Homo sapiens: one gene and its partners. The protein of the gene in region 4 interacts with the protein of the main gene of each other region in a pairwise test. Each region holds a gene or a part of one and is shown on either strand. Other genes may lie near its edges.

Region 1 (3,500 bases), on a different chromosome or scaffold from region 4:
CTTTGCAGGATGCTGAGTGCAGAAGGCAGGGGCCTGGGTGTGGCCAGGCCCCCCCAGGCAGCACTCAAGCCAGGAGGGGGTGAGGCCCCTAACTCTAGCATCTGTGTACACCTTGGACCACAAGGGAGGGCGCAAGCTGCTGACGACAGCCACCCTCACTACCCAATCAGATTATGCATTGATGACGCATTGATAAAGCAAAGGGCTTAGGAGAGCATTCTAGAACCCATTTCTCCATTCTCCACATGGCTTCACTTTGTGTTCTTGAGTCCAAGATCCTTAAGTCACCCATTTGTAAAAATATTCACCGATAGAGGTGCTTGTTTTGATATATACTTTTTCTGCTAGTATTTGCTAGTTTCATTTCCTGACGTTTTTGGCTGGAGAGCACAGGCCCTCCTAGCCAGCCCATGCTGGGTGCCACTCTGCCTTCCAGCCCCGCCCTGCCTCCTCTGGGTCGTGTGTCTGCACTGACCATTGCCTGTTCCTTCACCTGATGCTGATGAAGTGGGCCCCACAGAATGCAGCCCTCACTTAGTGCAATGAGCTCACTGTCTCCCATGTTCGCTTGCCCAGTATTTAACGAGTGTTTACCACGTGCCAGGTACCAGCGGCGACAAGGTATAGCATAACAGAGAAGGGGCGCCCTACTACAAAGTAAGCACTCAAGAAAGGTTTGCTCACTGAAGAGTCCTTGAGCTGCCAAGGCCCCACGAGAGAGGTGGGTAGCAGAGGAGGAGAGGTCCATGAAAATGCTTCAGAAAGTAACAGGGAGAGCCACGTGTGCAGGGTCACATGGTTGCACAGCCATCAGGACTGCTGAACGCCACGGTAGTCTGTGGCATATGTTCGTGAGCAAAGAAAATGCTAAATTTCAATTAGACATTTGTGAACATAAGAGTCCAATTTGCTTTCCGGTCCAAGTTCACGGGCTTCCCGAATCCCCTCCACAGATCCTCAGGGTTCAATGTGGATCAGGCCATACCAATCTTAAGCTCAACCCATGTGGGCACTGCACCATGGTTTTGAATATTGAAGAGACTTAAAAATGTATGGCAAGTGGCTGGGTGCAGTGGCTCACACCTGTAATCCCAGCACTTTGGGAGGCCAAGGCGGGCGGATCATCTGAGGTCAGGAGTTCGAGACCAGCCTGACCAACATGGTGAAACCCCATCTCTATTAAAAATATATTTAAAAAAATAGGCCGGGCACGGTGCCTCATGCCTGTAATCCCAGCACTTTGGGAGGCCGAGGCGGGCAGATCATCTGAGGTCAGGAGTTCGAGACCAGCCTGGCTAACATGGTGAAACCCCGTCTCTACTAAAAATATATTTAAAAAATTGGCCGGGCGCAGTGGCTCACGCCTGTAATCCCAGCACTTTGGGAGGCCGAGGCGGGCGGACCATGAGGTCAGGAGATCGAGACCATCCTGGCTAACATGGTGAAACCCCATCTCTACTAAAAGTACAAAAAATTAGCCTGGCGTGGTGGCAGGCGCCTGTAGTCCCACCTACTTGGGAGGCTGAGGCAGGAGAATGGCGTGAACCCGGGAGGCGGAGCTTGCAGTGAGCCGAGATTGCGCCACTGCACTCCAAACTGGGCAACAGAGCAAGACTCTGTCTCAAAAAAAAAAAAAATATTAGCCAGGTGTGGTGGTGGGTGCCTGTAATCCCAGCTACTTGGGAGGCTAAGGCAAGAGAATCGTTTGAACACGGGAGGCGGAGGTTGCAGTGAGCTGAGATCACACCACTGCAATACAGCCTGTGCAACAACAGTGAAACTCTGTCTCAAAAAAAAAAAAAAAAGAAAACGAAAATAAAAAAAAAAACTAGGGCAAGCTTCTTTGTCATCTACCTGTGACTGTGGTTGCATTTTTCTGATATGGGCTCTTTCTCTGATGATCCAATCTTTTGAGAAACGCTTCTCTTGGGGCCCCAAGGTTTCTCCCCCGTCTTCCTGTAGATGAAAACCTCATCCTAGTCTACCTCAAGGCTCTGCCAACTTTGGTTCATGGGCCAAATCTAGCTGTGCTCTGTTTTTGTGCAACCCATGAGCTAACAATGGTTTTTATATTTGTAGAGGGTTGTCAAAAAGGTAAAAGGAGGAGATGTGACACCGTCTGTGGTCTGCACAGCCTAAACCGTTTACGACCTGGCCTCTTCCAGAGGCTTGCTAGCTCCTGCTCTCCATCATCATGATGATGACCCACCTGCAGCATCAGTTCGCCCACTTAGGCGCTGGCCTTCAATGCGCTCTTCATTTCTTTCATCTAGGGATTTCCTTTCTTCCTTGTAAATTCAGCCCTGCATTAACATTTGTGGGTGGGTGGAGTTACACTATTTTACCTCACATTTCAAGATGCTTGCAGCAAGAAGGCAGGGGTAGGGGTGTGTGTGTGTGTGTGTGTGTGTGTGTGTGTGTGTGAATATCTTAGTCCATCTGCAGTGAGAAGGTAGGGATACGGGTGTGTGTGTGTATGCGTATGTGTGTGTATGTGAGAATATCTTAGTCCATCTTCTTGCCAGAAGCAGAAGAACAAATCTTTTCACTGATTTCTGCTCCAGAAACATCTTCAGGTTGACCAAAAGCTCCCCTGGGCAGGAGCTTCACTAGTTCTTGGTTATTCTGGTGCCTGTGTGGTGATCAGCTGAAGACTTGGTCCTGGCTGGGTGAAGGTTTATGTTGCGCAACATGAGGAGAAGATAACGAGAATGAGGAGGCAGGCACAGGCTGGGATGGGGCGAAGGGGCAATCCCTGGCACTCCAGGGCCTGGGCTCACCCTAAGATGACAGGGAGGGGCTGGCAGCTGAGGAGATGAGGGAGAGGATGAGAGGTGTTTTAGGAAGAGGTACTGCTCCTGAAGCTCCAGTGGGATCACAGTTGGGAGGACACTTGGGCCCAGAAGCTCCATGCATCAAGGCAGGCTCCACACTGAGGCTCTGATGGCCTGGAGCAGAGGCCAGTATGAATGACCGTGAATTGTCAAATCAGGGTGATTATGAGAAGAGCGGAGCAAGTGACAAGAACAAAGAAATCAAGAACAACAACTGATTGGGAAGAAGAAAACACACATCTGGTTTTGGTTCATACACCCGGAGCGTGAGGTCCAAGGGAAGAGGCCTCAAGGCATGCGCAGTCACTGCCATCCCTGATTTGGCTCCCTGCAGTGAGGGACTGCTTTCCCCGGTCCCTGCTCCACGATGGAACTACAGCAAGCTTTTCAGAATGTAAAGGAGATCAGGTCACCTCCTTGCTTAAATCCTCCAGTGGCTGAAACTGAGATCCAAACTTTACAGTGGCCAAGGGGGTCTTGCACAGTCTGACCCAGCAACCCTGCAGCCGCACTCTGCGCGCTGTGTTTGAGCCATCCTGGCTGTCTCCGGTGCCCCCAACAGGCTGATGCAGAAGGTAGGGGCCCTGCCTCCCAGCTTCGACACGCGCTATCCTTTCCATCCGGGAGCTCCCCACTCGTGGTCTAGTTAATCCCTCAAACTCAGTG
Region 2 (3,500 bases), on a different chromosome or scaffold from region 4:
GACTTCAACAATAATTTAAATGGCTACAGCCCATTTTTATGACATCACACACTAAACTATCATGGTAAAAAAGACCAAAATATTGTCTCTTAAAAACAGAATGAAAACAGTTATCACTTATAAGCTGCTATTATATCTTTCATTGAGAAAAACACTATTCCTGTCATCAAAGTAAAATTAAAACACTAAGTATAAAGATTTTTAATGACTGAAATTTCTAAGAACAGAATAGGGAAAACTATATTCAAATAAGTTCAGATGGTTATTGGTTTTAATATATAATAGTTTGATAAGTATGAGTATTAAATAACTATAATCACAAATCACACTGTCTAAAAAATTAACATTTCTGGACATGATCTTACCCTCATGGGAAAAAGTAAAACAACGTATCTGCATGCCCCCACATACAGGTTAACAATAACCACATCACACTGTCAAACAACCTTGAACTTCAACTACAGAAAATAAGTCATAGAAAGAATATGTATAAAGGTATATGGTTCTTCCAAAATAAAAATTCAATTAGGCCGGGGGTGGTGGCGCACGCCTGTAATCCAGCACTTTGGGAGGCCAACACAAGCAGATGGCTTGAGGCCAGGAGTTTGAGACCTGCCTGAGCAGCACAGCGAAACCCCATCTCTACAAAAAATACAAAAAATAGCCAGATGTGGTGACACATGCCTGTGGTCCCAACTACTCGGGAGGCTGAGTGAGGCAGGAGGATCACTTAAGCCTGGGAAGTCGAGGCTGCAGTGAGCTGTGATCATGCCACTGCACTCCGGCCTGGGTGACACAGTGAGACCCTATCTCCAAAAAGAAAAAAAAATCCAATTGATATAAAGAAAGAAAAAACTAGAGAGCTGCACACAACATAGGAAAAGTAGTTTTCTTTCTGGTTGAATCATAGGATATATTTCCTTTGTGTTTTCATGTAATTTACAGATTTTTTTTCCTCAGTGAGCAAGTATTACTTTTATAAACCCAAAAAACCCTGTATTTTTCATTGAGTATTTAATTAACTTATGAAGAAGGTTATTCATTGTGGCATTGTTTGGGTATAAATATAACGAAGTCCAACAACAGAAGACAGGTTAAATAAATCATGTTATGTCCATGCTGTGAAAACTATGCAACTGTTTAAAAAAATGAGACACATCTATATGTACCATTATGGAAGAATCCCAAACTATAAGGATCCACTGAAAAACAAAAGGAGAAAAGGACAAACAACCACTTTGGAAAGCAGTTTGGCATGATTTACTGAAGTCAAAGGTACGTACATCCAACAATTTTACCCCTTGGGGTACATATATATACATATATACATACATCTCTACACCCAACAGAAATGTGTTCACTGTGCTACAAGAGCCATGTACAAGAATGCTCTTTATAGCATCCTTCATAGTAACCCCAAACTGAAAAAAATCTAAACACAATCAACAAGGGAAAAGAAAACTGGGATTCAATTAAACAATGGAATGCTAAAGAGCAATGAAGATGAGTCACTGTTCCCGGCGACAATATGAAAGAACTGCACACAATGCTGCACACAGCCAGCTCAATGTGAAGGAATACACCCTGTACAAATCCATTTCTATAAAGTTCAAAAGCGTAGCTGAAACAAAAATAGAATATCTAATGGAAGCAAAGCAAGTAGTTACCATGAAGGTCAGGGCAGTATTTACCTGTGGCAGGAGGGAAGGTGTAGTAACTGGGAGGGAGAATGAAGGGGGTTCCCAGTGTGCTGGCTCAGTTTACACCAATGCTCACTTCATGAGAATTCATTCACTAATTCATTCATCTCAGTTTTTTTCACTTTTCTATATGTACTGTATGTCATAATAAAATAGATTTAAAAAGCAAAATGCAGAATATGTACAGAATGTCACCATCTGTGCTTTAAATAACTAGATCCATAAATAGAAGGAGAAAGAGATACTAATCAAAAGGGAACCAGAGAGCATGAATGACCAGGAGACTATTTTTCTGTTTTAACTTTTTTTCTTTCGAAGTTTGGACCAAGCATATCACTATCTGATCAAAAAAAAAATTTGTTGTTCATTCCTGTTAGTCATTTCAAAGTTAACTTACCAAATTCCTGCTGCAATAAAGGAGGCAGTGGTAATGGGTATCAAGGCTGGATACTTGACATCATATTCTCCAATTCCACAATACCATTCCAGGTAGACTATGCAGTAAAATGCAATTGATAAACTGACAAGCAACAAGGCACTGCCACAGAGAAACCAGCTGTGGAGATAAAAACAGTAAGAGGTCTGACAGCACTTAATGAATCGTCACATATCTTAAAAGTTTTTACTAATAGCTTAAAAATCTGCTTCTAAGAATATCAAGTGTTGCAGAGGGAGCCATACTTAAACAATCCATGCTTTCAGAAAGTCTCAATCTATGGGAGATGGGGGTGAGAAAAAGAGATACACAACTCAGGAAAGAATGAAAAGTAAGACTTGAAATACATGCATTTATATATACACTCTCATCAGCCAACCAACCAAGGGAAAATTCTGGTCATGACAATGCATTTTCTTTAAAAATACAAGGAAGAGGCCGGGCGCAGTGGCTCATGCCTATAATCCCAACACTTTGGAAGGCCGAGGCAGGTGGATCACCTGAGGTCAGGAGTTCGAGACCAGCCTGACCAACACGGAGAAATCCTGTCTCTACTAAAAATACAAAATTAGCCAGGCGTGGTGGCGCAAGCCTGTAATCCAATCTTCTTGGGAGGATGAGGCAGGAGAATCGCCTGAACCCAGGAGGCAGAGATTGCAATGAGCTGAGATGGCGCCATTGCACTCCAGCCTGGAGTGCCTGGGCAACAAGAGTGAAACTCTGTCTCAAAAAATAAAATAAATAAAAACAAAAATACAAGGAAGATAGTGGCTTTCTGGTTGTTTCTGAAGTTTTGAGTGTGACAGGATTAAAGAAGTTTATCAGTGGGAAACTTCATTCCTCCAAGTTAAGTGGACTTTCTTGGAATACTGAAAGACAATTAGGAAGATCAATAATTCAAATTTTCTCTCATAAAAGATTTCTAAATGAAATCCTCCCATTTTCAAAATATCTTCTACTCACCACCTCACCCTCAATGCCAATGCCTTTTTACTCCCTTCCAATTCCACCTGTGACCTGATTCAGCAAGAGTGAGGCAACCTGGACAACCCCTTCCCTCCACCCCAGCTGGACTTGGGGACTGAAATGCCTTTCCCATTCTCCCAACTCAATCCAATATCCCATCATCATCTGCTTCTCTATGGGAAAAGCCTGACAATCCATGTGGAAGAGAGAGGGAGAACAGATGGCTACAACAGATAAGTTACAAAGGCACAAAGTGAACTTCCAATAATGGCAAGGTTCCGGATTCCATGAAGGCTTTTTACGATGATGCAATTCTGAGATTCGGAGTCATGAGAGGCTGTAGAGGGAAGGGGTTAAGAGCACAGCCTCTGAAATCTGTCTGTATGGGTTTGAATCTT
Region 3 (3,500 bases), on a different chromosome or scaffold from region 4:
CTGCTATAAACCAGAAACTACAAAACAATTTCTTAAATGACCTGATTTTCCTAAAAACCTTAAAAACATTAGTTCCAAATACTGAGAATATATTTGGCCCAATTCCTTTGAACTCTGTCTTTAGATTAATGACGAGTTTCCTTTATTTCACTTATTCACTAGTTTAGTATGAAATAAACAGAGTTTGAATCAGTTAAACTGGCTAATGACAATTTTCCTCAATGATTTTTCTTCTGCATAGGCATGATAATGAAATCACAAAAGGTCTTCAACTAGTCTTCAACTATTCTTACACTATATAATCAATTAGGGAAATTTTTACAGACAAATGAAGAGAACACAAGTAGCTTTACAGTAAGTTGAGCCTGTTACATATATTTGTTCTGACAAAGAATTTCTGACACAAAAATTGCTCACTGCACACAGAATCTCAGAGAAATGATGAAACAAGACAGCTGATGGTAGAAGGTATATGGGAGCAGGGTAGGGTGAAAAGTCACAAATAAATTAAAAACTGGCAAGTACTTCTGAAGCAGAGCCACTTTTTAGGGGACACAAGAAAAACTGTTAAATCACCATTTTGGTCTCATCAGGGAAGTCCATTTGTTAAGAATTGAAGACCATTTTACTATAATTCATGCTGCAAAACACAGCAGTCACACAGTATTTCCAAAAGGATTCCAAAAATTGTAGTGCAAAAGAAAAGAAATCTAAAAAAATAAATAATCACAAAAACCACCAACATTTTTCAAGGAAATGTGTTCAAAACAGTGGCTTTTACAAAAGATGTGGATTTGTTTTAAATGAAAAAAAAAATAATTCCTATATGAAATACCAAAGACTCATTTCACATATAACTTACACTGCATTAATGATTGGATTAACAGTATATAAACAAGGGCCATGGTTTTTTTTACTAAAGTAGGTCTGAAAGATCAATATAAATACTAATGGGGGCAGGGAGGAGTGTTTTATACCCCAAACTCCAATATTCCAGCTCTGTGTCCTGTCCTATTATTATAATTTGTAAAAATCTTAACGACGCAGTGATTCGAGTTTTCGTAACTTCAATGATGTGTTAGAGGACAATGCATCTTGGTTTGAAGAATTTGCTGTATCCGAAGGCCGGAAAAGTACTCGACCACGATGATTAAATACATAAAAGGATGGGTGATTCCTTAACGTATCAAATGTCCTTGAAAGAAGAAAAAAGCATCAATTTTAGATAAACCTTTATAAAACCCTACTTGAAAATAAGTAGGCTTCTAACGAATTATCAATTTACTATGGGTTATATTTTTTAACAAGTATTAATACATGAAATCAGACTGTAAATAATAATTATACTGTATCTCTTTTCCTATATAAAGAAAATAAGAAACCTGGAAAAGCAGCATATAGCTCTCAAATTTCTTCTTTTTAAAAAAAATAGAGATAGGGTCTCATTCTGTTGCCCAGGCTGGAGTGCAGTAGCACAATCATAGCTCACTGCAGCCTCAAACTCCTGGACTCAAGCGACCCTCTCATCTCAGCCCCCCAAGTGCTGGCACTACAGATGCGCACCACCACACATGGCTTTCTTTTATTATTATTTTTTGTAGAGACAGGGTCTCCCAATGTTGCCCAGGTGGTCTCAGACTCCTAGGATCAAGCAATTCTCCTACCTCAGCCTCCCAAAGAGCTGAGATTACAGGTATGAGCCATGATGCCCGGCTTCTAATATTTTTTTTTATCCAGCCATTCCTTCCAGAATGCCTATGAATAACAACACAAATACTAGCTCAACTATTAATCTCCCCTGTAAATCTAACAGTAACGCATGTCGAATAGTCTTTTTAAAAAAGCAGCACATAGATTACAGCTTTGATTATTCTCATTTGGCCCTCATTATTCAAGCCATATGATCGTTTCACAGATCTGTTTTCCAAGAATCTTTCAAGCACAACAAAAAATTCCTTTTGGCCCTCTGTACCTGCTATTGTCCAAACACATATTTTTCTACCACCTACTTAATGACATTGTTTTACTTCTTTCTTTCCTGGCCCCTTGCCTGTGATTCTTGGTAGACTCTTTGTAAGAGCAAGCAGTGATGACAGTAAAGTATCCTTTCTACTTTTCCAGTGAGAGATATGTAGTCTAAAAGAGTTCACAAACACCTTGGTGTGTGGCCTTTATGGTTTTTGTTTTTCAATATTATTTTCCTGGAAAGGATAGGAGAACTCTTCCTTTGACAAAAACTCAAATCTCAGCCCACCTAAACATCCAAGCATACTCCCATACAAAAAAGAGGCCTGATATGTAACTCCTTAAAATGTACATATTGGGTGGGGCACGTTGGCTCACATCTGTAATCCCAGAACTTTGGGAACCCAAGGCGGGTGGATCACTTCAGGTCAGGAGTTCGAGACCATCCTGGCCAACATGGTGAAACCCCGTCTCTACTAAAAATACAAAAATTAGCCGGGCATGGCGGCAGGTGCCTGTTAATCCCAGCTACTCAGGAGGCTGAGGCAGGAGAATCACTTGAACTTAGGAGGCAGAGGTTGCAGTGAGCCAAAATCATGCCACTGCACTCCAGCCTGGTTGATAGAGACTCTGTCTCCATAAAGAAAGAAAGAAATAAAAATAAATAAAATGTACATAATGAACTAAAAGGGGGATATGACTTTCCTCTAACACATAAATGTTCACTGTGACTCCTTCTAAGAAAATATTGTAAAGGGGCATCATGTCCAGGATCAAGAAGGTGGGTAAAGTCCAGAGATGGAACTGAACAAAGCTAAAGGATGATTTTAGGAAAGTAAAAATATGAAAAATAAAAGCAAACATAGCTCATGAAAATAGCTTAGAAGTAGTCCAGGAGAAAAAAAAGAAAGCAGAATAACAAATATACTTTTAATCCAGTAGTAGAAAAGGGCCTGGGAGCAGAGCTTATCTCACATACTAGGTTCAAGTGAGAGGGGAAACCGAAAACCACTTACTCTTCCAAAGACTAAGCTGGGACAAGAGGATAGAAAGAGGATGGTAGGAAGAGAGGGATGGAAGGAGTGAAAGGGGGAAGGGAGGGGGGAAGAAAGGGAGCAAGGAAGGAATGGAAGGAGAAAGGTTAAAAATTCTGAGGCATTATTTTTCTATATATCTATTTTCATCCATACAACCAACCAATAATTTTAAGCAACGTATTTTTTTGATTCTACTGTGAATAATCTGGCATTCATCTTCCATTTTCTTACAGTATCAAATACCGCCTCAATGTTTTTACCTCATTATTCATACAAACTGTGTAATCAAAATGCAGAAACAAAACCAACTTTTATGTATCAGAAAACATACTTTTTAAAATTATGTGAATACAGCAAACCTCTATGAAATGCAATGCCTATGAAAAGAGAAAGACTTACTTATTTTTCAGTTCTGAAGTGGCATCCATGTCTTTAAACTCTCCTGCAATATGAACTATACCGTAACAGGTAACTGCAAAGGCCAGAAGTGTCTGAAGA
Region 4 (3,500 bases):
AAATGTCATGACTGATTATTCACTGTTCTTAGAGAGAAGCAAGATGTACTCATCGAGGAAAGCTGTAGAAACAAGTTCAGCTACAAACACAGGCATGGCTACGACATGCAACATGCCCTGCAACACACAAATTCCGCCAAGCATTTACCCTGGTAATTACGAAGTCTCAAAATTTACCTGACGTTGTCATGATGAGGATTAGAAGTGGCGGCAGCAGACCCACCACGCAACACAGGTCTAAGGCAGGTTTTTGCGGGAGAAGGCACAAGACAGAATCAGGAAACAGAGAAGTAATAAAATAAAAGCAAAAACAAGACAAATAAATGTCAAATAGGATTATATTGTATATTTCAATACAATATAATATCTCTCAACTACTTTAAAAAATCCTTGTCTCATGTGTCCTCCATTTTATCATTTTCATAAACTCAACATTACTATTGATCAAAGAAACAAAGGGAATCTATATTTACACGACAAAACAGCACCAACATATAAAATAATTTTCTTGGTGCTTTACTTTATGAAATTTAAGACAGAGGACAACTCTGCTTAAAAAGTGTAATTCCTTTCTTCCAGTTGGAAAAAAAAAATCACTAGCACCTTTAAAAGCATATCAGGACCTGGTTAGCTGCACCGGTATGACCACAGTTGCTCATCTGATATCAACAGCTCTATCTCAAAAACCGTATTCATAAATTTCAAGAAACTCCATTTCCCACACTTCCTTCCCTCCCACCTCATTAATTTTGAGTAGTGCCTGATGTCTCGTTGCAGCTGTGTCTCATTCAAACTCTCAGCTCTCCAGAGTGAAAATGCAAGCCTCCACTCTGAAGCTGAGATCAGGAGACGTGCTAGAGCACATTACAGGAAGGGCAATCCACAATTTGAGTCTGATCTTGAGACAGCCAGGAGTGACATACAGGGCTGCTGGAAATGAAGACTAAGGTGCAATGGGAAACTTGGTGGGGATTTCCACTCATTCTCAGTATATACTTTGGCGCTAGAGGACAGTTAGCTTTCTACTTTGATAAGCAGTAACCTTTCCAATACGTTTTATCTTTTAAAATCAGAAAACAAAAGCTTCTAAGTGTTCACTGGTCAATTCCCCCTAAAACAATCAGCAATATTTACTAAGCAGAGAAAGGAGACTGGAGTGTTGGATCCATATAAAGATTTGAAGAATTATTAAATCCTATTTTGGATATCTCATTCTCTAAGTAACTGATCTGGTTTTGCCTGAATTTAAGTATCAAGACAATAATTATATAATGGTAAATGTTTAATACCAAATGCACTAATTTTTTCTGTAAGTTGGCACAGCTGTGGAATTTTGACTACAATACAAATTATTTTCTGATAATTCAATTCATGTAAGAAAATTCTAATGTTTAACTTCTACATGTCTTAAAGGTACTACCAGTGCTTAAAGAAATTTCTGGAGCCTAGATGATAAGGGATTCAGAGACTTTTTGGGGGAACATGTTTGACTTTTATTTTACTGGCTAAAAAACATGGAGAAATCACATATGCTTAAGACAGGTCTTTAACTCATCTCATCCTACTAACATATTTACTCTGTGGCATTAGGAAACCTGTTATTTAACTACAATCTTAAATTGCACTAACATGAAAATGGTTAACTAGATGAAGCCATCACTGTGTGCTTCCTAAAGCTTTTTAAAATGCACACAGTATGTTCAAATGGGTCTGTCATATTCAACCTATTCCACCACAGAGATTTCCCTTTTATAACGCAGAGCCAGAAAATAATACAGTTACCTTTCACAACGTATTTCATTTTGTCTTCTCACACTGGCAATTGACACATATATTGTAAAAGTAAATTAGACAGGTATGTGGCAAAGTTAGAAACTTCATTCAAGTACCATTTTCTACGATAAGTATGATTTAATACATAAAATCTTCTCAACAGTATGTTTTGTAGAGTGGCAAAAGGGAAAGAAATCCAAGGCTACCACCAAGCTCCGCCATTAACTTGCGTACTGACATTTTTTGAGTAAATACACTCTGACGTAACAGAATATGTGTTTCTTTGCTATAAAAATGTAATCTGCTACAGAAAATAAAGTTTAATTGGGGATCAGGAATTATACACTTTTTTAAAGAGAAAAATTATAAATAACAAACGCTGTATCCACTGCAACTCTGGATTTCTAGGTCTTCCAAGCTGTATATTTATAGGGATACTTGCCAAAAATATAAATTATTCATACATTGGTTTCTTATTCTATGCACTCAAAGCTGGTACAATCTGTTAAGGAAAAACTGCATAAAAATAATCAAGCCCCTCGTAAAAATGAGAGCTAAGCATGACTCATCTATCAATATTTAAATAAGGTTCTTACACAGGAACTAAGTTTCTTTTTGAAGATGCGAATATTTTACATTGTAAAATGAGATACATAGCTCTAACAGATACAGGGAGAGACCGGCATTTTCTAACCAGTTAAGGACCAAATCATAATAGTATTTTAATTTCTGCTGCACCTGAGCAAATGACACACCTGGTGCTTTGGTAAATTTTCAGTGTATCAGTTCTCCAAATGCGTAACACTCACCTGTGTAAATAAACTTTTCTAACATGTACCTAGGATTTAACTTGGTTTTCACGTTGAGTTTGGTTTAGATCATCTACATTCTTGTAAGAAAAAAATATATGGTACACAAACCTTTTGACAGCGTCCTTTAAAATGTAAACTGAACACAGTTCTTATGTCAAGGAATTGTGAATCTGCATTACTTCATAGTGATAAAGCAAGCAGAAAGCTTTTTTCTTTTTCTGCCAAATAGTTCTAGTTTAAATTAACTACACCTAATGTGATGGCATATGACCAAAGATAAGGTATTGCATTAGCATAATAGCCAAGAGTAATAAAATAGAAAAGAAAAAATGATCTACAGAGCAAGGAACATAGAAGCACTTAAAATTTTATAAGCAGTATTATTTTATAATCATGCAAGTAGAACATTATCCAAATTTCACATTCCTATTTCTTATATCTGAAAAGTCATGCCAGATACTTCTCACAAAGGAAATAAAAACTGATTTGGCACTTAAAATTCTGATAAAATCTTGCTCAACACTGAGATCCTAAGTGAATACAACTTTAAAAAATCCTTTCAATACTGAAAGCGTCAATAAGACTGATGAGAATCTAACCCTCCAAGCTCCAAGGTAACAACTAATGCTACAGATCTAGGAGAAAAGCATTATTAATATAACTCCTTCATGAACTTTTAAAAACTTACTGAAATGAATGAGAAAAGAGAATTCCTTCCCAGAAAAGGGATTTTAGAGTTATCAATTCATCACAATGTAAAAAAGTGAAATAAAATTTCACTGAAAGTCCAAAAATATTTTTCATTATTAAAAAAATACAAAGTTTATACTAATACGATTTTTGATTTTATACATTTGACTCTGAGGCACAATTTTTTTTCCATTATGGAGGAAAAAATCCATATTTTTATAAGTT
Region 5 (3,500 bases), on a different chromosome or scaffold from region 4:
GCTGGGATTACAGGCGTGAGCCACAGCACCTGGCCAACCACACACCCATTAGAATGGTTAAAAGTAAAATAACTGACAAATACAATGTATCAATGAAGATGTGAAGAAACTGGAAAACCTACATTGTGGTGGGAGTATAAAATTATATAAACACTTTGGAAAATGCTCTGGCAGTTGCTTAAAAAGTTAAACAGACATATAACCTAGTAATCTCACTCCTAGCAATTTTACTACTAGGTATTTGCCCAGGAGGAATAAAATCATATGTCCACACAAAGATTTGTACATGACAGTTCCTAGCAGTTTTATTCATAACAGCCCCAAACTGGAGACAACCCAAATGTCAATCAACAAGTGAATGGATAAACAAATTTTGGTATGTTCACACAATGAAATCATAAGTTACAAATCACTGATAACACAGAAAAAATAGATGAATCTCACAGATATACTGAGCAAAAGAAGCTAGACAGAAGAGTACGTACTATAGTGTTAGAAATAAAATGAGTGTGTATGGGGACAACACTGGTAGAAATGTTCTACAGTTATGTGCCACATAATATGGTCAACAATGGACCATATATATGATGGTGGTCCCATAAGATTATAATACCATATTTTTATTGCACCTTTTCTATGTTTAGATGCACAAATACTTGTTACTGTGTCACAACTGCCTACAGGTTTGTACAGGTTTATAGCCTAGGAACAAGAGACTATACCGTACAGCTAAGGTGTGTAGCAGGCTATACTACCTAGGTTTGTGTAAATATACTCTATGATGTTTGTGAAGGGGTAAAATCAACTAATGATGCAGTTCTCAGAATGCACCCTCATTGTGAAGTGACCCATGACCGTATATTGATTGTGATGGTGATTATACAGATGAGACATTTGTCAAAACTCACTGAACTCTACATTCAAAATCTGTACATTTTATTGTCCCTACATTTGATTTCAATTAAGTTGATTTAGAGAAAAAAATGTGACAGCAAAATATTGAAAAACCCAAATGTTTATCAATAGGATACTGCTTAAATAATGATCCATATAATAAATCCTATGCAGCTGTGGTGAAGGAGGAGGAGGGATGCCAGTTATTGCTATGGAAAGATCCCTGAGATACACAGTTAAGTGAAAAAGGCAAGACACAGATGAGTGTGCATAGTATGTTATCTTTTGTGTAAAAAAAGAGAAACTACATTCACTTTGGCTTGTACAGGCAAAAAGAAACTAGAGGGATACACAAACAATGGGAGTTAACTTTAGGAGGCAGTGAAACTGGGCAGAGGGGAAGGTGGCTTTTTACTATATACCTGTTTGACCTACTTAAAAAATGAAAAAAATTACCTAGGTTCCAGGAAAGGGGTATCTGTTCTAACTTCCCTATACCACATTCCCAATCCTTCCAAATTATATTTAAAATGTGAACAAAGCTATAAAACAGACCTAATTCCATACTCTGCAGCCATGAAAAACATTGAGGCAGATCCTAGGGTACGGTTAAGAGTACAGGCCACAGGCCGGGCATGGTGGCTCAGGCCTGTAATCCCAGCACTTTGGGAGGCTGAGGCAGGCGGATCACCTGAGGTCAGTAGTTTGAGACCAGCCCGGCCAACACGGCAAAACCCCGTCTCTATTAAAACTACAAAAATTAGCCAGATGTGGTGGCAGGTGCCTGTAATCCCAGCTACTCAGGAGGCTGAGGCAGGGAGAATCGCTTGAACCCGGGAGGTGGAAGTTGCAGTGGGCTGAGATCGCGCCATTGCACTCCAGCCTGGGTGATAGAACGAGACTCTGTCTCAAAAAAAAAAGGAGTACAGGCTATAGGGTCACAGTGCTTGATTTCAAATCTCACCTGTGCCACCTAACTTTATGACTCTGTGAAAGTTACTCCTCTGCTCCTGTTTTCTCACCTCTAAAACAGGTTGTTGGGAGGCTTAAAAGAGAAATTACATGTAAAGCACTTAGAATAATAAGCACTCAATAAATACTATGACGACTACGAGGGCAAATCAACTAATAGAATACTATGACTCTATTTCTGTATATATTTGTACATATTTGTATATATAAGTATATACATGTTTGCACATATAAGTATATGCACGGAAGATGTAGTATTCAAACAAATTATTGGGATTGAAAGAGTTTAGCCTACCCTAACTTAAATGTGTTCAGAACATTTACGTTAGCCTACAGTTGGGCAAAATCATCTAACATGAAGCCTATCTTACAATAAAGTGCTGACTATTTCATGTAATTTATTGAATACCATACTGAAAGTGAAAAACAGAATGCTTGTATGAGTACTCACATATCACTTTCACACCATGGTAAAGTCAAAAAATTTTAAGTCAAGCCCTAGTAAGTCAGGGACTGTCTGTAAATTGCTTCAATGTCATCCCTCATCTTCAAACATGTCAGTGGTTTTCTATTACCTTTTGGATCAAATCCAAACTACCTACCAGACCTTGCATGTCCTGGGTCCCGCCTAGCTCTCTGGCCATTCTTGTCCTTCATTCACTATAGACACAGCTTCTTTCAGTCCCACTAATGTGCCAAACTCTTGCTTGACTTCAAATGCTGCTGGAATGCTCTTTTCTGTATTCTTTCCAAATCAGGTTCATGACCATCAGCTCAATTAAATGTTATCTTCTCACAGAGGCTTTCCCAGATCACTCTTATTAAATTAAATCTTTCCTGATTTTTCTTTCTCAACTCATTTGTTTTCTTCATAAAAGTGCCATAATTTAAAATTATTTCATCTGTCTGTTTTTGTTTTGACTCCTCTAGAATGGTAGCTTCAAGAAGGCAGTATCATGGGATATTTTCGTTTTGTTTGTTTGGAGACAGGGTCTCGCTGTCACCCAGGCTGGAGTGCAGTAGTGCTATCTCGGCTCACTGCAGCCTCGATGTCCTGGCCTCAAGCCCTTCTCCCACCCCTGCCTCCTGAGGAGCTGGGACTACAGGCTCATGCCACCATGCTCGTCTAATTTTCGTATTTTTTGTAGAGATGGGGTTTTGCCATGTTGCCTAGGCTGGTCTCAAACTCCTGAGCTCAAGTGATCTGTCCACCTTGGCTTCCCAAAGTGCTGGGATTACAGGCGTGAGCCACTGCACCCAGCTTTGTTTTGTTTTTAAGACAGAATCTCACTCTGTCGCCCAGGCTGGGGTTCCATGTTTATGTTTATTTTTATACACCACCAGGGCCTACTACTATATAGAACTTAACAAATATTTGTTGGGTTAATAAAATGTTATCCCATTTATGAGATGGTTCCTAAAGTAATATTCTCATTTATGGTGACAGTTTCTAAAAACACATATAGGCCGGTGCCGTGGCTCACACCTGTAATCCCAGCACTTTGGGAGGCCAAGGTGGGCAGATCACTTGAGGTCAGGAGTTCGAGACCAGCCTACCTAACATGGTGAAACCCCATCTCATAAAAACTAGCCAGGTGTGGTGGGAGGGACCTGTAGTGCCAGCTACTCCAGAG
Region 6 (3,987 bases), on a different chromosome or scaffold from region 4:
GGAGGTTTCAAATTAGTTTTGAGTCTACCTCTGGGATTGAGGAAACAATACCATCTGAAAGTAGGGTTTTTGCCACTTAGGGTTTGGTGTTTATTAGCTCGGATTTCAGATGGGATAGGAAATCCCCCAGTACCTTCAGATGATAAGATATTTTAGAGATTTTTGCATGTGGTATGATTTCTGTGCTTCACACATGCTCGTGCAGGCTAAAAGTTGGAAGGGAAATGATTAAGAAATTATTAAATGCAAGGACTGAAAATTGAGAGGAATCTGAGTTTTTATTTTTATTTTTTTAATTTTATTTAAGTTCCAGGATACATGTGCAGGATGTGCAGGTTTGTTACATAGGTAAACGTGTGCCATGGTGGTTTGCTGCACGAGTTTTTCAATAAAATGCTTTCATTCATCCTGTTCTTTGGAGCAACTTCATTTTCCTGACTCAAGTTCTTTCCTCCGGGGTTCTATTTTCTCGTCTTGATAACCGTGCCTTCCTCCCTGTGCTTACCAAAGGCTTCCCAACCTACTCGGGGGTTTTGTGGCTTCCCTCGTCTACTAGAAACCTGGGTAGAGTCCAGGGTGCTCTGAGTTAAAAGTCAATGGTGAGAAAAGAACCAGGGTCTTCTGGACCATAGGAATGTGAATAAAGAGCTTTACCTGCTTATTCATGAAGCAGTAGATGATGGGATTGTAGATGCAAGCACTCTTGGAGAAGAATGAAGGAATGGTGACAAGCCGTAAGTCCAGCCCATGGTTACGGTTGTTGACCATGTACATGGCGAAGGCCGCGTAGGGCACGTAGCAGACACAGAAGGATCCTACCATCACAACCACCATGCGGCTCACCTCCCGTTCAGCCTTCTGGGTCGTAGCTGACTCCTGCTGCTGAGCTGCAACCTGGGGTGGAGCACGGAAAGCATCACATCTCTCTTTTTCCTGGCCCTCTGGATGCTTTTTTTTTTTTTTTTTAATTTTTAATTTTTAATTTTCTTTTTGAGACCGAGTCTCGCTCTGTTGCCCAGGCTGGAGTTGCAGTGGTGCAGTCTCGGCTCACTGAACCTCCACCTCCCGGGTTCAAGTGATTCTTTTGTCTCAGCCTCCTGAGTAGCTGGGGTTACAAGCACACACCACCATGCCCAGCTAATTTTCGCATTTTAGCATTTTGCCATGTAGGCCAGGCTGGTCTGGAACTATTGACCTCAGGTGATCCGTCTGCTTCGGCCTCCCAAAGTGCTGGGATTATAGGCGTGAGCCACTGCGCCCGGTCTCTGGATGCTTTTCTGTGGGATGGGGGAGGGGGCATCCACTCTGATTGCCTCTTTTCTGTCCCATCTCCTGGCCTAGTTCCTTTGGATCTCCATCATTCTCCCTCCTCCTACTTCCTTTGCTGCTTTTAGATACCCTCTCTGGCTATGGACATTTCCAGGCATCTTATGTTTCAGAGCACTCTTCCTTCTCATGTGGAGCCCCGAACCCCTTCTTCCCTGACTATCAAATGCCACTCACAGCTTTCAGGGCCCTCAGCAGCTGAGTGTAGGAGAAGCAGATGAGGGAGAGAGGCACAATGAAGCAGAAGATGAAGAGGAACCACGTATAGGACTCGCTGCGGTATTTGGTGCCCACGGTGTACCAGTCAGGGCCACAGGAACACTGCAGGCCCTCAGGGATGAACCTGCAAAGGACCAAACACTTGCTCACTGGACTCTCCACAAGAGTGCAGTGGGAGCTGAGATGCCTGGATTGTGTTCTCCACTTAGAACCCACGGAATGCCCTAAGGCTTCAAGCAGGGGGGTTTTCTGTCCTGACTGGGAGAAGCTACAGCAATTCCAACTGCAGAGTAAACGTTAGCACTTGTCTCCCACTGCCCTTTCGCCTCATATTGCAACTCTTTAAAAGTAGAGGTCAAAGACTAAATAGTTATACCCAAGCTCTCTTTCCACCCACATCAACCTGAGCTCCTAGTTAACTCAGCACCACTGCCCTGCACTCTCACCGGCTCCAGCCAAAGAAGGGTGGGATGGAGACGCCAATACCAATGGTCCAGGTAGCCAGGACCACCGTCAGTGCATGCTTGGAGCTGAAGCGGAAGTTGCCGAAGGGCTTACAGATGACAATGTAGCGCTCAAAGGCCAGGAAGGCCAGTGACCATCCTGTAACCAGACCTGTGGTGAAATGTGAGGATAATGGGCTAGACAGAGCCCCACCCAGCCTGGCTGGCAGAGTGGCAAACAGATCGGGTGGAGCAAGCACAGAGAGACAGGGCTGGACTGACATTTGGAGTGAAGACTCAAACATCCTATTTTAGCCAAACTTCTAGTCTGGGTTGCTTTGTACCCCAGTATTTTAAAAAGCACCAGACTCATTTCCCCCAGACTCCTCTTTAGGAACCCCCTCCAGTGGAGTAGCAACCTTTGCCTTCCCCTAACCCCTTTTTCCCCTGCAGTACCTGCTACAGTGCCCAGGAAGCCCTCCAAAGCACAAACATGGCGACCGAAGACGAAGTATCCGTTACAGCTGGCGACGAAGACAGGGAAGACAGAGAAGATGCAGAGGAGGAAGCCTCCGAAGGACACGTTGACCAGAATGTAGTTGAGGGGCTGCCGCAACTTTTTGTAGCGCAGTGTGGCCACCAGCACCATGGCATTGAGTGGGAACCCTATAAGGAAGACAGTGCCCATGAAAGCTGCCTGGAGGTAGAAGGCCCAGACAGGGGCAATGTGGTACTGAGGCCCATCCCACGGCCCCACTGAAGAGATATTTTTGAACAGATAAAACTCTTCCTCCGACATTTTTCTCATGGATGCCCCACACCCCCCTCTGAGTCCTCTTATAGGTGATCCTCCCACCCCACAAAACCCCTCCTCTAAAAACACTTGGGCTCTGTGAATGATCAATACTAATCCTAAACCTCCCAAGGACAAAGTTTGGGATTAGAAATCCCTAAACCACTACCTAAACCTTTTGTGGCCCCAAAGCCGATTGTGTTCTTCAGAGGATAAGAGATTGGGCTCAAATAATCTGGATATGCAATGCTGGGTGCTGGGATGAACAGAAGTGGACTCCCTGAGGTCTGGGAGGTGCTGACCCATATTCACTGAAGATGCTTCCACTTTTTTGTTCTTTTAATGGGGCTATAGAAAGGGCACGCCTCTTATTTTGGCTTCTGGCACAACTGTATCAGTTAAGTTTTCCTCAACTCATCTGCCCCTTTGTGGAAGGTGCCCATCTTAAGTCTGCTGAGAGGCTAGGAACCAGCCCTGGGCTGCAGGAAAGGGCTGGGAGTGGGGAGTGCCCTGGAAGCACATCAGTAAACAGCCTTGATGGAACAGGACTTAGGCAACTTGACAATGCCTAGAGGTCTAGGGCATCCCTGAGCCAGGCTGCCTCCATTTCTTTGTGTTGAATCTACTCAAAGAGTGTGCCTTTCCTACTCAGACCTCCAGCCAGGGAGGTGGGTCTGTTCACTGTCCTTACGCCATGTTCATGCCTACCCCTACCCTTAGCTCAACAAGTCGCCACAGTCTTCCTCCTGTCTGTTCATTGAAGTCTTATCTAGCCCTCACAGCCTACCTCACAAACACCTCTTCTGTGCAGCCCACCCCAGTGACACCAACTCTGCTTTAAGTTCCACCTGCACTTGTACTCAGTACTACACTTTAGGCTTTATGAATGAATCTTTTCCACCTCAGCAGATCATAAATATATAGATGAGTTGGCCGGGCGTGGTGGCTCAAGCCTGTAATCCCAGCACTTTGGGAGGCTGAGATGGGTGGATCACAAGGTCAGGAGATCGAGACCATCCTGGCTAACGGTGAAACCCCGTCTCTACTAAAAATACAAAAAATTAGCTGGGTGTGGTGGTGGGCGCCTGTAGTCCCAGCTACTTGGGAGGCTGAGGCAGGAGAATGGCGTGAACCCGGGAGGCGGAGCCTGCAGTGAGCCGAGATCACGCCACTGCACTCCAGCCTGTGGGACAGAGCGAGACTATA
Region 7 (4,240 bases), on a different chromosome or scaffold from region 4:
TAAATTTCTGGTATTATATGAAAGACTCCTTGCTATTCTAAGTAATTATTAAATGTTTGGATTTAATCGCTTTGCTTAAGTTTTGGGTAAAGGTGAAAAAGTTAAACTCATAGATTGTATAATATAAATCAATTATCTATAGGAACCAATCCTATTTTTTCTCAACTGTTACTACATGATTGATTTATTTAAAAATTAAACAAGACTCAGACAACTTTACATTCAAATATTCACATCTCTAACAGCACTGACTTGTCAAATTACCCCATGTATCTTGAAATGCTTACTACAAGAAGAAAGTTTTACTCTAAAAGGCATTTTGAACAATTTTCTTTTGAGAACTCAGACAAAGAATGGGTATCAGTGTAACTCATGAAATACATGAAGACTATCATAGAAAAGTGACTTTGGTGAATGGTGGTTATTTAGGATTGTCTCCTTTCCAAAAGTACAATCTCTTTTTTTATGGTGAAAAGAGTATTATAACAGGGAAAGAAAGCCGATGCAATAGTAAAAACTGTTGAGAAGGGAATTATACAAAGAGTGAGACATGGCATCAAGAATGAATTCAAAAAGAGCAGAAAAATATAGGCATAAAAAGAGATAATGTACAGAAAAAAAGTCAGTGATACAACAACACAAATTTTTACCTGCTAGAATGTAAGTAATTTAGAGCTGGATTTTATAAACATGAAATTGTTTTTCTAATACATTCAACCAAAAGTCAGCACACATAGTTCAGTCATCTCTCATTACTTACAATAAAATATTTTCTATTTGTTAGGAAATAATATCTTATTCCCTGGATCTATTATTTCTTTTTATTGATTTTCTTTCTATTCTCTAAACTTAATTGCTTAATTTTTATAACTGATTCTCTGTCTCTATTCCATCTTATTCCAGCATGGATTATTTAAAACCTGTATTAGTTTTGGAACCACTAAACATTTGCTCAGAAGTTTGAATTACCAGAGAAGCACCCTAACTCTTCAAGAACTTCCAAGCCTAAGGAATCACTGATTTCATGCATTCATCCTGGAGATTTTCCTTAAAAATTAGAAATAACAGATCTCATGTTTCACAAAATCAAAATGACAACTTTTGGAGTGGGGGAATGAGAAGTGGGAAAAGGATGATACTGGGGGTTCTTTGTCAGTATGCTGTATGTATGCTGTATGTCAGTGCAGTTGAATGACTCCTTCTGTGCGTCAGAAATCCAAAGCAGCAGCAGCAGCAATTAGGGAAGATCGTCACTTTCACTCAAGGTTCAGAAATGGGGGAGGAGAGCAGGGGGGACAAAGGAAAAGGGGAGGAGAAAGCAGGGCAAAGAGGGGAGGGATGGAGGTGAAGATAGGGCACATCCTGCAAAGATAATGTCTGTACAATCAATGACATCATCCTCCTGCTTATATATATAGGGGAATGGCCAGAGCACCTCTCATAGTTCACTCACTTTCAAAGCCAGCTGAAGGAAAGAGGAAGTGCTAGAGAGAGCCCCCTTCAGTGTGCTTCTGACTTTTACGGACTTGGCTTGTTAGAAGGCTGAAAGATGATGGCAGGAATGAAAATCCAGCTTGTATGCATGCTACTCCTGGCTTTCAGCTCCTGGAGTCTGTGCTCAGGTAAGCAAAACAGAATTTCACAACTCCCTGAAGTGATTTCTTTTTTCTCTTTTGCAGTGTGTTGCTACTTATGTTAATGTATCTGGGGAGAAGAGTTGCTCCCTTTTATTCAGGATTTACCTTTTAGTGACAGAAACTGAGTATCTCTTTCTCTGCCTTTATGATTACTGAGAGATGTATTTTCTCTTTTAAAATCTGCAAAGCAATAAAAGGGATTTCAATGAAACACTGCACGACCTCCTTTGGAATTCAACAACTAGAGGGAAAAAAACCCTACAAAACTTTCAATTAGGCTGATCATTATCTAATGAGAAATACAGAGGCAGTGGCTGTCAACCTGCAAACCCATCATTAAATCCCATTCCATTCAAAATGTTTTACTCTCATCCTCATTCATTCTCTTAGGAAGCGGTGGCCCTCACGCCCTTGTAATAGTCCCCGTATTATTTTCTTGTTTGTGTTAAGATAACAAATAAAGTGAAAATTGATACTTAGTGAAAAATGAAGCATTATTTGTAGAAAATTATTTCTAGAAAAATACAAAAATATTCCAGATCCTTTTTGAGAACAGAATTTGCATAGTCTAATAAGTGTGCTATTAATATAACTGTTTGGCATTTTTTCCATGCCATTTAAGTTAATACAAAATACAATTGGAAAATTGGTATTCTTATATTGATGGAAATTATTTGACTTTAGAGTGTTTTGCATGTGGTTTGAAAGAAGTTATATAGTCCTAAGTATCTACGAATAACTCACTTTGAAAATAAGACTTAAATTGAAAGGTATAACATGAAATATTACAACCATTGCAAAAGGCTCTACTTAATATTTAAGAAATATTACAATGAACACTTCAAAGGGAAAAGAACACATTAGGAAGCAAATGCAGCAAAAATAATTTAACCTGTTCTGTGCTTTTATGTATCATAAATATGACATGGAAATGTTTAACTCAAACTCATGCTATCATTTGATTTAAATTATGAAATTAAAATCTAAGAAGATATAAATGTGATTTATACAAAATTTTAAATTTATTTTAATCATCAGAACATAACTTTCAGCTTCTACTTTTTAAATCTTATGAGAAAAAACAAACTTTTCTATAATTATGATTTTATCTGAAAGTTATATGAGATTAAAGATTCACATACTTCTGGAAGAAAAACTGGGTTATTGATTAAGCACTGTGTTTATTAACTTGAAACTACTTGTTGTAATAATGCAATAGTTATAAGGATTTTGGTATACATTGTTCATAAATTCCTAAAACAGATTATGTCTCTAACAAATAGTGAGAAAAGATCTCTTGTATAATTTAGGTTCTAGGTAAAATTAAGCCAATGGGTTCTCCAATTGTGGCATTTCTTTTTACTGAGTGTGTAGTACAAGGAAGATAGAGTCATTTTTAACTTTATTTTTATTATTGTATAGTATTTTCCAAATTTTCCTTCTCTGTAAAATATTCATTAACAGAAACTTGGATAGAGTTTTTTAAAAATCCAGAGATCCATTTTCAATGCTGTTGTACATGTGTTGTTGAACAGCTCCACTTTTGCTTTAAACAATTTCCTTAAATGCCTATGAAAAAATTGAGGATACATAATTTTGAATTCTCTTAAAGTACAATACAATTCTTTCAACGTGTGTTTTGTAAAAAACATCTCAAGTTAAGTAAACCTCAGTATCTTTATTATTCTAAAATTATCAGTAAGCAATTCCCTTTGGTTTTGTCTTGAAAAAGTCTCTTGTATAGTCTTCATTATGTTGTGTTTTTAAATGTTAATATGCATATTTTCTATATATGTAAACTGTGGCTGGTAAGAAATAAGCTACTCTAGCATATTTGGTAAAATATGTGTTATACAATGTAATCACATTTTTAAAGCCTGAAATTCAAAGATTAAACAACTCCCAGTGATCAATAGCTGTCTGAAAAATAATCATATGCTTATTTTCTTAGAAGTGCTTCTACTATTTTAGCTTCCTATTATGCTAAAGTATAACTATAATTTGTTTTTTAGGATTACTATTTTTAAGAAAATACATAAGAAAGACACTAACCTCTAAGATTTTTTTTTAGATTAACCTAAAATCTGTAGATTATGATATAATTATATGATATGTAATTATAGTAAACCTGATTTTGATTTTACTCAGATTCAGAAGAGGAAATGAAAGCATTAGAAGCAGATTTCTTGACCAATATGCATACATCAAAGGTAACTTTTTCTTTTCTTTAACCCTGAGTTGAAGAACATATGAACTTTCATTATAAACATGGTATCCTTTTCCCATAGTAATAACTTCTCATCAAGATTGAAAAGTTCCTTGAGAGGCATTTCCTTTTTGAAAAAAAAAATTTCTTTTAGTTAAAAGAAGTTAAAGGTGTTGATATGACAGGCAAAGAAATTATAATTCTATCAATCAGCATGTTGCAATTTTAATTAATTGCCACACATATTTACTTGCCTGTAAATGTTTTTAAAGGAACTTGCTTCCATGCCTTTTACATTGGGTATGATGAAAGGTATATTGGTCTCAAGTTAAATGAAAACAAAGTGAGCTCTTTGCCTTTTTTATTATATTGGGGGAAATAAAAAGGTGTTCCTAAA

The links.
Region 1: the proteins of MFF (region 4) and STX8 interact in binary tests that used the Homo sapiens proteins (3 or more experiments, as listed by UniProt).
Region 2: the proteins of MFF (region 4) and TMEM128 interact in binary tests that used the Homo sapiens proteins (3 or more experiments, as listed by UniProt).
Region 3: the proteins of MFF (region 4) and MMGT1 interact in binary tests that used the Homo sapiens proteins (3 or more experiments, as listed by UniProt).
Region 5: the proteins of MFF (region 4) and CYB5B interact in binary tests that used the Homo sapiens proteins (3 or more experiments, as listed by UniProt).
Region 6: the proteins of MFF (region 4) and OPN1SW interact in binary tests that used the Homo sapiens proteins (3 or more experiments, as listed by UniProt).
Region 7: the proteins of MFF (region 4) and NTS interact in binary tests that used the Homo sapiens proteins (3 or more experiments, as listed by UniProt).

What each region holds. Positions count from the first base shown.
Region 1 is NC_000017.11:9,250,821-9,254,320, forward strand, and holds part of STX8 (syntaxin-8), read right to left. Parts: intron 1-3,500. UniProt on the Homo sapiens protein: Vesicle trafficking protein that functions in the early secretory pathway, possibly by mediating retrograde transport from cis-Golgi membranes to the ER.
Region 2 is NC_000004.12:4,238,224-4,241,723, forward strand, and holds part of TMEM128 (transmembrane protein 128), read right to left. Parts: intron 2,257-3,500; coding exon 2,098-2,256; intron 1-2,097.
Region 3 is NC_000023.11:135,963,989-135,967,488, forward strand, and holds part of MMGT1 (ER membrane protein complex subunit 5), read right to left. Parts: coding exon 3,402-3,500; intron 1,196-3,401; coding exon 1,036-1,195; 3' UTR 1-1,035. UniProt on the Homo sapiens protein: Part of the endoplasmic reticulum membrane protein complex (EMC) that enables the energy-independent insertion into endoplasmic reticulum membranes of newly synthesized membrane proteins.
Region 4 is NC_000002.12:227,349,251-227,352,750, reverse strand, and holds part of MFF (mitochondrial fission factor), read right to left. Parts: intron 238-3,500; coding exon 178-237; intron 1-177. UniProt on the Homo sapiens protein: Plays a role in mitochondrial and peroxisomal fission. Promotes the recruitment and association of the fission mediator dynamin-related protein 1 (DNM1L) to the mitochondrial surface.
Region 5 is NC_000016.10:69,431,119-69,434,618, reverse strand, and holds part of CYB5B (cytochrome b5 type B), read right to left. Parts: intron 1-3,500. UniProt on the Homo sapiens protein: Cytochrome b5 is a membrane-bound hemoprotein functioning as an electron carrier for several membrane-bound oxygenases.
Region 6 is NC_000007.14:128,772,995-128,776,981, forward strand, and holds the start of OPN1SW (short-wave-sensitive opsin 1), read right to left. Parts: upstream 2,801-3,987; 5' UTR 2,788-2,800; coding exon 2,445-2,787; intron 2,161-2,444; coding exon 1,992-2,160; intron 1,670-1,991; coding exon 1,504-1,669; intron 895-1,503; coding exon 655-894; intron 407-654; exon of another isoform or gene 1-406. UniProt on the Homo sapiens protein: Visual pigments are the light-absorbing molecules that mediate vision. They consist of an apoprotein, opsin, covalently linked to cis-retinal.
Region 7 is NC_000012.12:85,872,855-85,877,094, forward strand, and holds the start of NTS (neurotensin/neuromedin N preproprotein), read left to right. Parts: upstream 1-1,440; 5' UTR 1,441-1,549; coding exon 1,550-1,622; intron 1,623-3,785; coding exon 3,786-3,847; intron 3,848-4,240. UniProt on the Homo sapiens protein: Neurotensin may play an endocrine or paracrine role in the regulation of fat metabolism. It causes contraction of smooth muscle.